Regions from separate parts of the Homo sapiens genome. Here region 2 is linked to region 1. Evidence: fine-mapped expression QTL. Tissue or cell type: tibial artery. Region 1 holds a variant in brackets; the other region holds the start of a gene. All regions are shown on one strand. Distances are between the middles of the regions.

Region 1 (5,147 bases):
TCCTCATATGTGTCTGTGTTTGAAAGCCACAGCCTCTGAATAGCAGGTCTATCTGTGAGTAAAATTTATGACTCTTGTTTCCACTGGATCCAACCTTTTAACCCTGGGAGTGCTTAATTGCCTTTTCCAGGTTTTGCTTTAATAACCAGCTTGATTCTTGCCAATTTGGGCTGAATCGAGAAGCGCTGAATGTGTGACGGGAAACGGAAAGCTCATTACTTGATACTTGATACAGCTTATGCCAAATCCTTAATTCATTGATTTCACTCGTGGCATCTTTTCTTAAACGACAAGTCAGAAATTCATATGTAAAACTTCCAAACTCAGTTGGGGATCCTCAAAGCTGATTTTTATTAAAAAAAAAAAATGCCTTCCCTGAAGACACACTTTGGGAGAAATTCTGACCATGAATTACAGGACAGCTTTGGAATTCTTGGTCTCTCCCAGAGGAGCTCACCCTTTCTGTTGGGGCCTCTTGGGCCCCACACTCCGCCTTCCAAAGCCAGCACAGAGTAAGGTGTGGACATCTGGTTCCTGTTTCTGGATTCAAAATTGATCTGCTGGGTGATTCTTGGCAAGTCACTCAACCTCTCTGAGCTTAAGTTTCCCTAATCCTGGCTCACCAGACACCTCTCATGGGGAGGGGCGGGTGGCCTGTTAATGAGCAGGTGTTTTGGGAAGGGAGGGCTCAGCTGATGGCACAGCATAAGAGAATCCCAAGGAAAAGCAGGGACAGGTGGGGGCTGCAAATCATAGCAGAGCAGTAGCTAAACCCTGCAAAACACAAGTGGCTTGTAGCAGGGAAGAAGTTATTTCTAGAATCACTCATGTTTTACTCCAAGATAATCAAATCTCCTCATACAATCTCAGACCCAGCCTTGTTAGTTCTTCAAGGCCCCTCTGGAGCACGCTTACCTTCATGCAGCCTTCCCCAGTTCTCTTTGGCTTATGCTGGCTTTGTTCTTTCCTGAACATTCCACTGCTCTATGTGATTTTCATCCCTCCATAATATATTAAAGGATTCCTACACCCATGCTCCCAATGCCACATGCATTATGAGTCTTCCCACATTCACTTCTCCCATACATGAACTTGAAGAATTTGTTGTTATCTCCATTTTGCAGATAAGAAGACGGAGGCATAGGGAGGTTTACTAATTTTTGGGGTGACCAACTTGTCTTGGTTTGTCTGGAACCATCCTGGTTTTAGCACTGAAAGTCTTGCATCCTAGGAAACCCCCCAGCCCCAAGCAAACCGAGGCAGTGGGTCACCCTAGTTCGAATGTACATGTCTGGCTGACCCAAATAAGTGCTCTTTCCTCAGCGCCCCTTGCTCCTCTCCTTACCCAGTCCTCGTCCCCAAGTCCCCAGGCAGACACAAACTCCTCAAGGACAGCAACTATGTCTTAAAGCATTTTTGTATAAAATAACCTGGAATAGAATGGGAGTGGGTTCATATTTGCCAATTTGAATAAAATCGTATCTTCATTTCCATGATGGGAAGATCACTTTTCCTCTAACAGCATAGCTGGGTTGCTCTTGTAAGCTATTTTCGGGAAATGTCTTGCACAATTCAGCGTTACAGAGACAGGCACTTTCAAGCTCATCTCTCCTCTTTTACCAACAAGGAAATGAGTCGGCACAATGGAGTTTTAGGACCTTCAGGTTTCTAAGCAAGAACCACCTGCAATCCTCAATCTGTGTAGATCCAAATGCATGAATGCACAAAATAGATCTTTGAAAAGGCACCTCTATTACTGTAGGACTCTGTGATATAGCATTTGAACTTGCACATCCAGCTCTTCAGCTCTCAAGGCCCTTTCTTTTACTTTAGACACTTATTCAACAATGTATGTATGCTGTCACCAGGTGCCGGTGCTGCCTCACTTGGGATGATCCATATTGAACACAAACCTCAATTGACCAATTATCTGATTCCTTCCCCAAAACCATGGGCTGTAGAAGGAGGGTCTATTGTATGGAGAATCACAACAGGTGCTCCAGTTCTCAGGGATTACAGTTAAGAGAGTGCCTGTGCCTGTAGATTCCCTCTTAAGACTTGGATGAGGCCTCCCTATGAAACAGAAGGGACTGATAGGTCCAAGAGGGTCTGAGGCACCCAGTTCCTTGCTGCCAAAGGCCATCAGGAGAGTATTTGGCTTATCTCATTGATTTCATGCAAACCAATGATCAGAAGCAGCAAAGCATAGTGGTTAGGCTCACAGACTCGGAAGCTAGACAAACTTACTAGCTATGTAGCCTTGATCTTATTAATTAATCTATCTAAGTCTTAGTTACCTCATCTGTAAGGCAGAAATAATAATATTGTCTTATAAGACTGTTGTGAGGATGCACTCAGAAACATATGTGAAGAGTTGAAACACAGTAAGCATTCAAAGAATGATAGCTATTATTATTATTATTTGATTATATGGTTGGACATGGTCCCATTGGCTCCCATTGACATTGACTCCCAGTGAGGGTTCAGCCAGGCTGGAGTGGGGGCAGCTGCTGGTGAAAGCATCTCTCCATTGTACAATTTACCACTCTCCTCTGCACCAGTGGCAGCTAGAATTGCATCTCGATGAACTCATGCCCAACCCAGCCTTCAGGGCCTGCTTTTCCACTGAATCCCATTGCATGGGATGAATGTTGGCTTTTCACAGAGTGTTGGCGTTTTAGCCTTTGTTTTTTCAGCATGTTTACAGGGAATGTGAATGCTCA[A/T]ATCAATATTCCCTGGATAGCAATGTTCCCTCATGGAATAAGTTATTTTGCAATTTCTTTCCATGGTGTGTGTGTGTGTTTAAGCTGCAATAAATCATTCTATGACTTCTTCAGTGTTGCTGAACTTCTTCATAGACATTCATGCAGTGAAACACAAGGAGCACTTTGGATCCTAAGTCAAAATCTCTTACAGGAATATCTGGATTATCTAGAGATCAGAACACCAATAAAGTCAACTATTCAACTGTATCCACAGAGGCTGTTAAAAAAAAAAGCCTGAGAGAAACATGGAAGCAATCCAAATATCCATTGGTGGATGAATGGATAAGCAAAATGTGATATAGACATATGACGGAATATTATTCAGCCTTAAAAAGGGAAGAACTCCTGACAGGCTATGACTTGGATGAATCTTATGGGCATAATACCAAGTGAAATAAGCCATTCACAAAAAGACAAATACGGTATGATTGCACTTGTGTGAGGTACTTAGAGTAGTGAAAATCACACAGACAGAAACTAGACTTGGCGGTTGCTGGGGCTGGGGAAGGGGTGAATTACAAGATGAATGAGTTCTGAAGATGGATGGGGGAGATGGCTGTACAACATTAATGAGTGTCAAGTATTTAATACCACTGAGCTGTACACTTAAAATGGTTAATATGGTTTTATATTATGTGCATTTTACCACAATTTAAAAATAATTGGGAAAAAAGACCCCAGAAAAGTAAGTAGTTATCAGAAAGCCCATATGCAATAAGCCACACTCAGGACAAAAACAGACAAAAGTAAAGCCATGCAATAAACATGGAGAGGAGAAGAATTGTTAGTAAAAACAGAACAGTCAGCATCCATTTCACTCTGCAAGAGCCCTGAGAACATTACCAAATACAAGAATCCAGGAAAACAATGTCTGTTTACAAAGATAACTCTAAGTCTTTATGAAATTGTGACTTGTGTCTAAGGTGCTATTTACTAAGGAGGAAAGGGAAGATATCTTTATTAAAACAGCAACATTAAAAAAAAGACTTGACCTGAATTGACATAAAGGAAATTATAAAAGATTTCAAAAATGCTTTGAGTCATAACAATAGTGTTAGAAAAATAAAATGAATATTTAAATATCAAGCCTCAGTTACACAGAAATCTCAGTTACACAGAAATCTGATTTGTCTGGATCACCATGTTTCTTGGCAGATAAATGGAGCATTTTGCATGTATAAATACTGTAATTCTAAGTGCCATTGTAAAATCATAGAGGATTAAGCTTCTGATACATTATGACTGACTTTTCCAAAAATTACCTAATGATTTTCCAAATATATAGGTGGTAAAGTGCTCACCTTCTCACCCAATCTGTAGGTAACCTTTTTGAAGAGTAAATAAGATTCTTTAATGTCAGAGTAAATAAGATTCCTTAATGTCAGAATTCTTTCAGTCTCCCTGGTTCCCACTCAGAGTGAAGACATCAAGACACAGAAGAGCGCACAACTTCATGATCTTTGGGCATGAAAATCCTGGATGAGTCAAGCCAATAAGCCACTTAATGGATTGTTTTAAAAATTGTCATGGTCTGGGTTGTGCTGAGAGGGCATTAGGTTGTTCATATCAGGATTCTGCTTCTCTGTGGAAAAAAAAAAAACAACCCTTTCCCTTTCTTTGAAGTTAGCAAGTCATAGCCTTCAGAAATAAATGAAGCTCTTCCCAGAATGTCAGATGATAACCTAAACACCTTGTCTATCCATCAGTTCATCTATTCATCCTTCCATCCACCCATACTTCCATACTTATATCTGTCTATCCTTTCATTCCCTCTATCTATCCATCCCTTCCCATCCTTCCTTCCCTTTTTCCATTCATTCATTCTTCTATCTAGCTGTCCATCCAACCATCCATCTGTCGTCCAGTAAAACTTCACTGGTGCCTGCTAAATATGAGGTTCTGGACTGAGCCCAGGGGAGAGACGCAGTGCCCCTGCCCTCATGGCATGTTCGGTCTGCGGAGACAGGTTCACAGCAAATGAGAAGCATGAAGTACTATAGTGTGCCAGGGTGTAGCATGGAAGGCTCCACCATACGGGGAGCAGCGGAGTCAGAGAAGGCTTCACTGAGGAGACTACCCTGAGACATGCGAGATAAATGGGCATTAGCCCAAGTACAGTTATCCAAGGAACTGGAAGAGACTTAGTGTGGCTGGAGTGCAAACAACAAGGTAGGGGTCAGAGAGCTGAGGGACAAAGAGGAGCTCACTTCTGAGGGCCTTGTGAGCCACGCCTAGCAGTTTGGACATAATTTAATCCTCTCTACAACCCACAGAAATAACTGTTTAATTAAATTTAATCCATTTAATCCTCTCTACAACCCACAGAAACACCTGCTAATTTTCCCATTATAGAGATGAGGAATTGCACCTCAGAGAGATTAA
Region 2 (5,147 bases), 110 kb after region 1:
GGGGACCACATTAAAAGCATTACATGCACTATCTCATTTAATTCTGCCTATGCTGTACATATTATTATCATCTCCATCTCACAGATGAGGAAACCAATACCAAATAGAGTTAAGGTATTTGCCCAAAGTCACACAGCTAGTCCCTAGGATGCATACTCAGGCAATTTGACTCCAGACACCAGCCTCTTAGCCATTATACTACCCGGCCTCAGATGAAACCATTAAGGGAGCTATTGTTGTAGCAAGGCTAGCCACATGGAGCGATGTTCACAATATGCTAATAGGTATAGCAAGCAGGTTATTAAAGACTACATGCAGCCTGATCCCATGTGTACATGTGCACACAAAGCAAAAAGAGGATGCTTTGGGAAGATTTCACCCAAGATTTTACTTGCGTGAAAATGTTAGTTTTCTTCTGCTTGGGTTTTCTGATTTTTCTGGGCAAACGTGTTGTTTCTATATTTTAAAAAATTATTTTTAGAGTTAAAAACTAACATAAATGCCAAAAGTCACTCCCTCATACTCATCTCATGCATAAATGCAAATGTCCAGCTATTGGCTTTGCTTTAGGTATAGGCACAACAGCACGCATAGGCGCTGCTTGCTTTTCATGGCTCAGCTTCTTCTTGAAGCAGCAAGGGCTCTCCAGTTGGGAAGAGACGACACAGATTCTTCCCATTGCACCCTTCAGCAGACTGTCCCCATCATCCAGAAGCCCTCTGGGCATTTTTGCCTCCAGGGAACTGCCAGGCTGATGGCATAGAGCTGGGTGAGCTCTCTCCTGACAGCCAAGCCCAGGGACTCCAAGAGCTTGAGATGATCCACCTCCTGTCTCTGGGTCTCTCAAGGCAGCAAGAAGTGAAGGGCAGACAGGCCTCAAAGCAACAGAGTGGTCCAGGGACAGGAGTCCCAGTTCTGCAGCCGTATATACTGAGGACCCTCCTGGCCTAGTCACCTGCTTCCTAGCTCTGTGACCTTGGACAAGTTATTTCTTCTCTCAGAGCATGTTTCCACACCTGTCAAATAAAGAAATTAAAAGTACCAACTTGGAAGAAAAGTACCAATTGGTAAGAATCAAAGTAATAGATAAATTAGACATAAAACGATGGTGCCAATAAGTAACATTTCCTGGGTACTGACAACATGTATGATTTCTATAGTTCTCACAGCCACCCTATCAGAAACACTGTGATGATCTGCACTTTACAGATGATGAAACAAAAGCTGAGAGCGGTAAAGTCACTTGTGCTGGAAAGTAGTGAGGAGGGAATTTCTGCCACTATGGCTGGGCTCACACCACTATACCTCGCATTCTGGCACAATGTCTAGAACATGGGAAGGCCTTCATCCAGATGGTTACCACTGTCATCGCTCTCCACTAGGGCTCTCTACCTGGCTTTGGAGAGTAGTGTGAGAGTGAGGACTCCTCCTGGTTCTCCCCACCACCCAGACACTCACACAGCCACCAGGCCACTGACCCACTTTAAGGAGCTTTCCTTTGGGAGTCACCAAAACTCCTCCCCAATACCCGTCCCCACCCCCGCATACACACACATACCCTCTTTGAGTCAGTTCCAGTGATCACAGTCAATGACTTTGCTGCTGGACAGTCTATGACAAGCCCCTGTCCAGAACTGGCCTTGTGTTCTGGCCCAGCAGGGGCCCTTGGGGGTCAGGCCTGCAGGCACTCACACTTGGCACCTGCTCCAAAACCCTTTCAGGTCTTTGAGGATCTGAGCCCTGGGCCTGGGTCTCCCGCCGGCTCGGAAAAGCTGGCCTGCCGGGCCAGAGAGAGAACCACACGATTCAGAAAAGCAGTGCCCTTCAGCAGCCTCTCCACCGTCTGGGCTCCCCAAAGGCAGAGCGGGACGCTGGAAATGTGTGCGCGCTGTGGTATGGGTGTGCAAGTGTGCGAAGGCGGCGTGTTGTGTGAGCGAGAGGGTAGCGGATGTGTGTGTGCGTGTGCGCGCGTGGCTCCGGGTGTGCGCCGCTGCGATAGCGGGTCCTTTCCCGGGGCGGGCGACGGGCGGGCTGGGAAGGTCTCCTCCCCTCACCACATTGAGAAATCTCAGTGAGTCACCGAGTGGTTCTGCATATTAATGAGCTCGCTCGCTGCGAGGGCAGGAGCGGATTTAAAAGAGGCCAGGGCGGGCGGAGGGAGGCTGTGGAGAGAGCGCGGAGACAAGCGCAGAGCGCAGCGCACGGCCACAGACAGCCCTGGGCATCCACCGACGGCGCAGCCGGAGCCAGCAGAGCCGGAAGGCGCGCCCCGGGCAGAGAAAGCCGAGCAGAGCTGGGTGGCGTCTCCGGGCCGCCGCTCCGACGGGCCAGCGCCCTCCCCATGTCCCTGCTCCCACGCCGCGCCCCTCCGGTCAGCATGAGGCTCCTGGCGGCCGCGCTGCTCCTGCTGCTGCTGGCGCTGTACACCGCGCGTGTGGACGGTGAGTGCGGGGAGCTCCCCTTGTCGCCGTCTCGTCTTGTCCTGTCCTGGGGAACCCAAGCGCCAATTTCTAGGCATCCTGGGATCCCGCGGGGGGTGGTCTGGGTGGGCACCAAGGTGGTCGAGGGGCAGGAGACCGCCTAGCAACTAAGCCGTTGCCCCGCGCTCGCTCGCAGGGTCCAAATGCAAGTGCTCCCGGAAGGGACCCAAGATCCGCTACAGCGACGTGAAGAAGCTGGAAATGAAGCCAAAGTACCCGCACTGCGAGGAGAAGATGGTTATGTGAGTTCTCGCTCCTCACCTTGAGGGGGTGCGCACTGCTGTCAACCCAATGCCAGGGCACAGCCTGGGCCTGGGTCGGGCTAACAAACATTTCTCTCCGACTTTGTCAAGGCCCTGGAAAAGCCTTTGTAATTGCCCAGAGAGTCCTTAGGACGCTGGCGAGACACTCTGGAAGACAGTCGGGAAGGGGGGTCACTGTCCCGCTCCGGAACAGCGCCTCCAAGTTCACCCTTGCTAGGATTCAAATGAGCAGTCTCCCTATTTGTACCATGGGCCACCCACTCTGCTAGGGCCATCAAGGGTTAAAGGGTTCCCTTGTGCCAACTCAGAAAACCTAGACTGAAATCACTTAAAACACACTCACACCCAAACTGTGAGGCGTGCTGCCTTCCTGTCACTGGATAGAGGACTAATGCAAACACTATCTTAAATCCTGAGTCTCCTTCAGAGCCTTGTTCCAGTCAGAGACAAGTGGACCGCAAGTTTTTGGCTCCTAGAGATTTTATTTTGAGAACGCTCCACGAGCTTCCCTCACCGACTGTACTCCTTGTGGGTCCCCAATACGGAGCAGTACTGCAGAAAGTGCTCTGCTGGGGTTAATGTGCCACATGGCTGGAGCCCTGCTTGGTGGGGATGTGGGGAATGTTGGAAAAACTGGGGCAGAGTGAGAGAACACTTAGTTTCTTGCTCCTCCGCCTTCCCAATTAACCACTTGAGGCCAGCACCGCTGCCTCCTCATCAATATGCTCTTGGCCAGGAAGGGAGCCCTTGGCAAAGCGGCTACCAAATATTTGCCACAGACCATTGGCCCCTCTTCCCCTCCCCCAGAAACAGGACGCACTTTATTCTCAGTCTGGGCAAGTGCCCTCCACCAGCTGGCCCCCACCGGCGCAAAGGCCTTCACAGTGTCTGCGAAAGCAGTGCACACCCCTACCCAGCACCCCCCATCCCCGTCTAGGGGCTACACTGTCAGGCTGAAATTAGGGGAATTCAGAAATCCACTGGAACTGAGCTGACCCCACTGCCTTCCTTCACAGACACCTAAATTAACTTGCTTGTCCCTACCCCTTGCCTTGCAGACCAAATTCAAAGAAAATACCCAAAAATCCTTTTGGGTGGGGGCCAAGTGTCAAATGAGCTGGGAAAGGAGCTCCAAGCTCCTCAGGGCTTCCAGTTTGGGGGCTAAGAATGACAGGGGAATTCCAAGTTAAATCTCACTCGTCTAAGAGCTGAAAACCACTCTATTAACCAAACAAGTTTCTGAGACCTTGCAGGGGAAGAAAGCAGGGTAAAGGATGCAGTGATACCTAAAAAGGACAGAGCCCTCAGTAAATAGGCTTGCTCTTTTCCTGGCTAAACTTTTCCACATATAGAGAAAAACTATAGCTAGGCAAGTGTGAGAAAGGCTTTACGGAGCCTTGTAGAAACGTGCAGGGGCCTCAGGAGATCAGCACACAATCCAATCACCCTCTACTAAACCTCTAACCCACCCCCTAGGGCCTCCCACTCCATCCCTGAGGGCTGGGGGCTCCTCTCCCCCTCCACAATCCTAAAACTCTCCAAATCAGATGAGGGGCCAGCACTTTTGCAAAGCAGGTTTTCAGCCACAAAGGCTGAACAAAAGCAAATTTTCCAGCTTACCCTGAGTCACCCAGAAATCTCTGCTGAGGCTGGGGGTGGGGGCAGGAGTAGGGGCGGGGGGAGAGGTCCGCTTTGCAAGTGGGAGTCCTTGCACCCAGAAGGATCCAGGAGAGTCCGAATTCTAGAAAGAGCAATTTGTGTCATAGGTCCATGGAGCTCTCACCAAAACCCTTACCCCCACCGCCAGAACTGTGGAGGAGAGGGTCACAGGACTCAGAATTTCTGATAGTTGCTGGAGTCACAAATCCCTATGTCTGCACTCCACAACCGATTTTCATAATCCCAGTATTATGACGTGGCATTTGAGCACTGTAGTGAGAGGGCTGAGTGACCCTTCCTGCTCTCCCTTCCTGCTCTCCCTGACCTTCAGGATTTGGGATGCACAGCCTGCACACTGACCTAACTGAGAAAGGGTTTTTATCAGGCATTACCACGTCCTTTCCTTCAGAATGCTAAAGCAGCCTTGTAGGCAGAAAGAGAAAAGCATTTGCTAAATTCCTGCAGGGTGACTGGGCACAGTGGGGGAGAGAGACAACCAGAGTTCACTCTGAAGCCTGGCCTGTGCTCAAGGCTAGAGGAATGACCCGGAGTCACAGAGGAGTCCAGTCAAGGCAGGCACCATCACCTGGCATCAGCAGGAAGACCCGCCCCTGCCCCAAGGAGCTTAGGCCCTAGCAGGGACCCCAGAAACCCAGAGCACGGAGAAGGGAAGAGAACAGGTTGCCTAGGAACATTATGCCCCCATTCTGGTGGCAAGATCCGATTTTCTTTCCCCATCAACTGG

Direction of the effects. Alleles are on the strand shown, and positions count from the first base shown. SD is a standard deviation of normalised expression in the study named.
In carriers of allele T in region 1, the expression in tibial artery of the gene that starts at base 2,165 in region 2 tends to be higher than with A alone (small effect, 0.33 SD a copy in GTEx).

Evidence for each region. PIP is the estimated chance that this variant, and not a neighbour inherited with it, causes the effect. A credible set is the group of variants that fine-mapping cannot tell apart.
Region 2: it holds the start of CXCL14, and the variant in region 1 is the best candidate, but not a certain one, in a credible set for the expression of CXCL14 in tibial artery (GTEx, PIP 0.65).

The regions. Positions count from the first base shown.
Region 1 is chr5:135,686,165-135,691,311 of GRCh38, reverse strand. It overlaps a transcript of SLC25A48 not described here. Among named protein-coding and RNA genes, the nearest start is that of SLC25A48-AS1, 35 kb to the right of the region's middle. The variant A/T (reference allele first, on the strand shown) is at 2,724.
Region 2 is chr5:135,576,009-135,581,155 of GRCh38, reverse strand. CXCL14 (C-X-C motif chemokine ligand 14) reads left to right here and starts at 2,165. Exons shown (of 4, transcript NM_004887.5): 1 at 2,165-2,441; 2 at 2,617-2,722. The coding sequence starts at 2,378. It also overlaps a transcript of SLC25A48 not described here.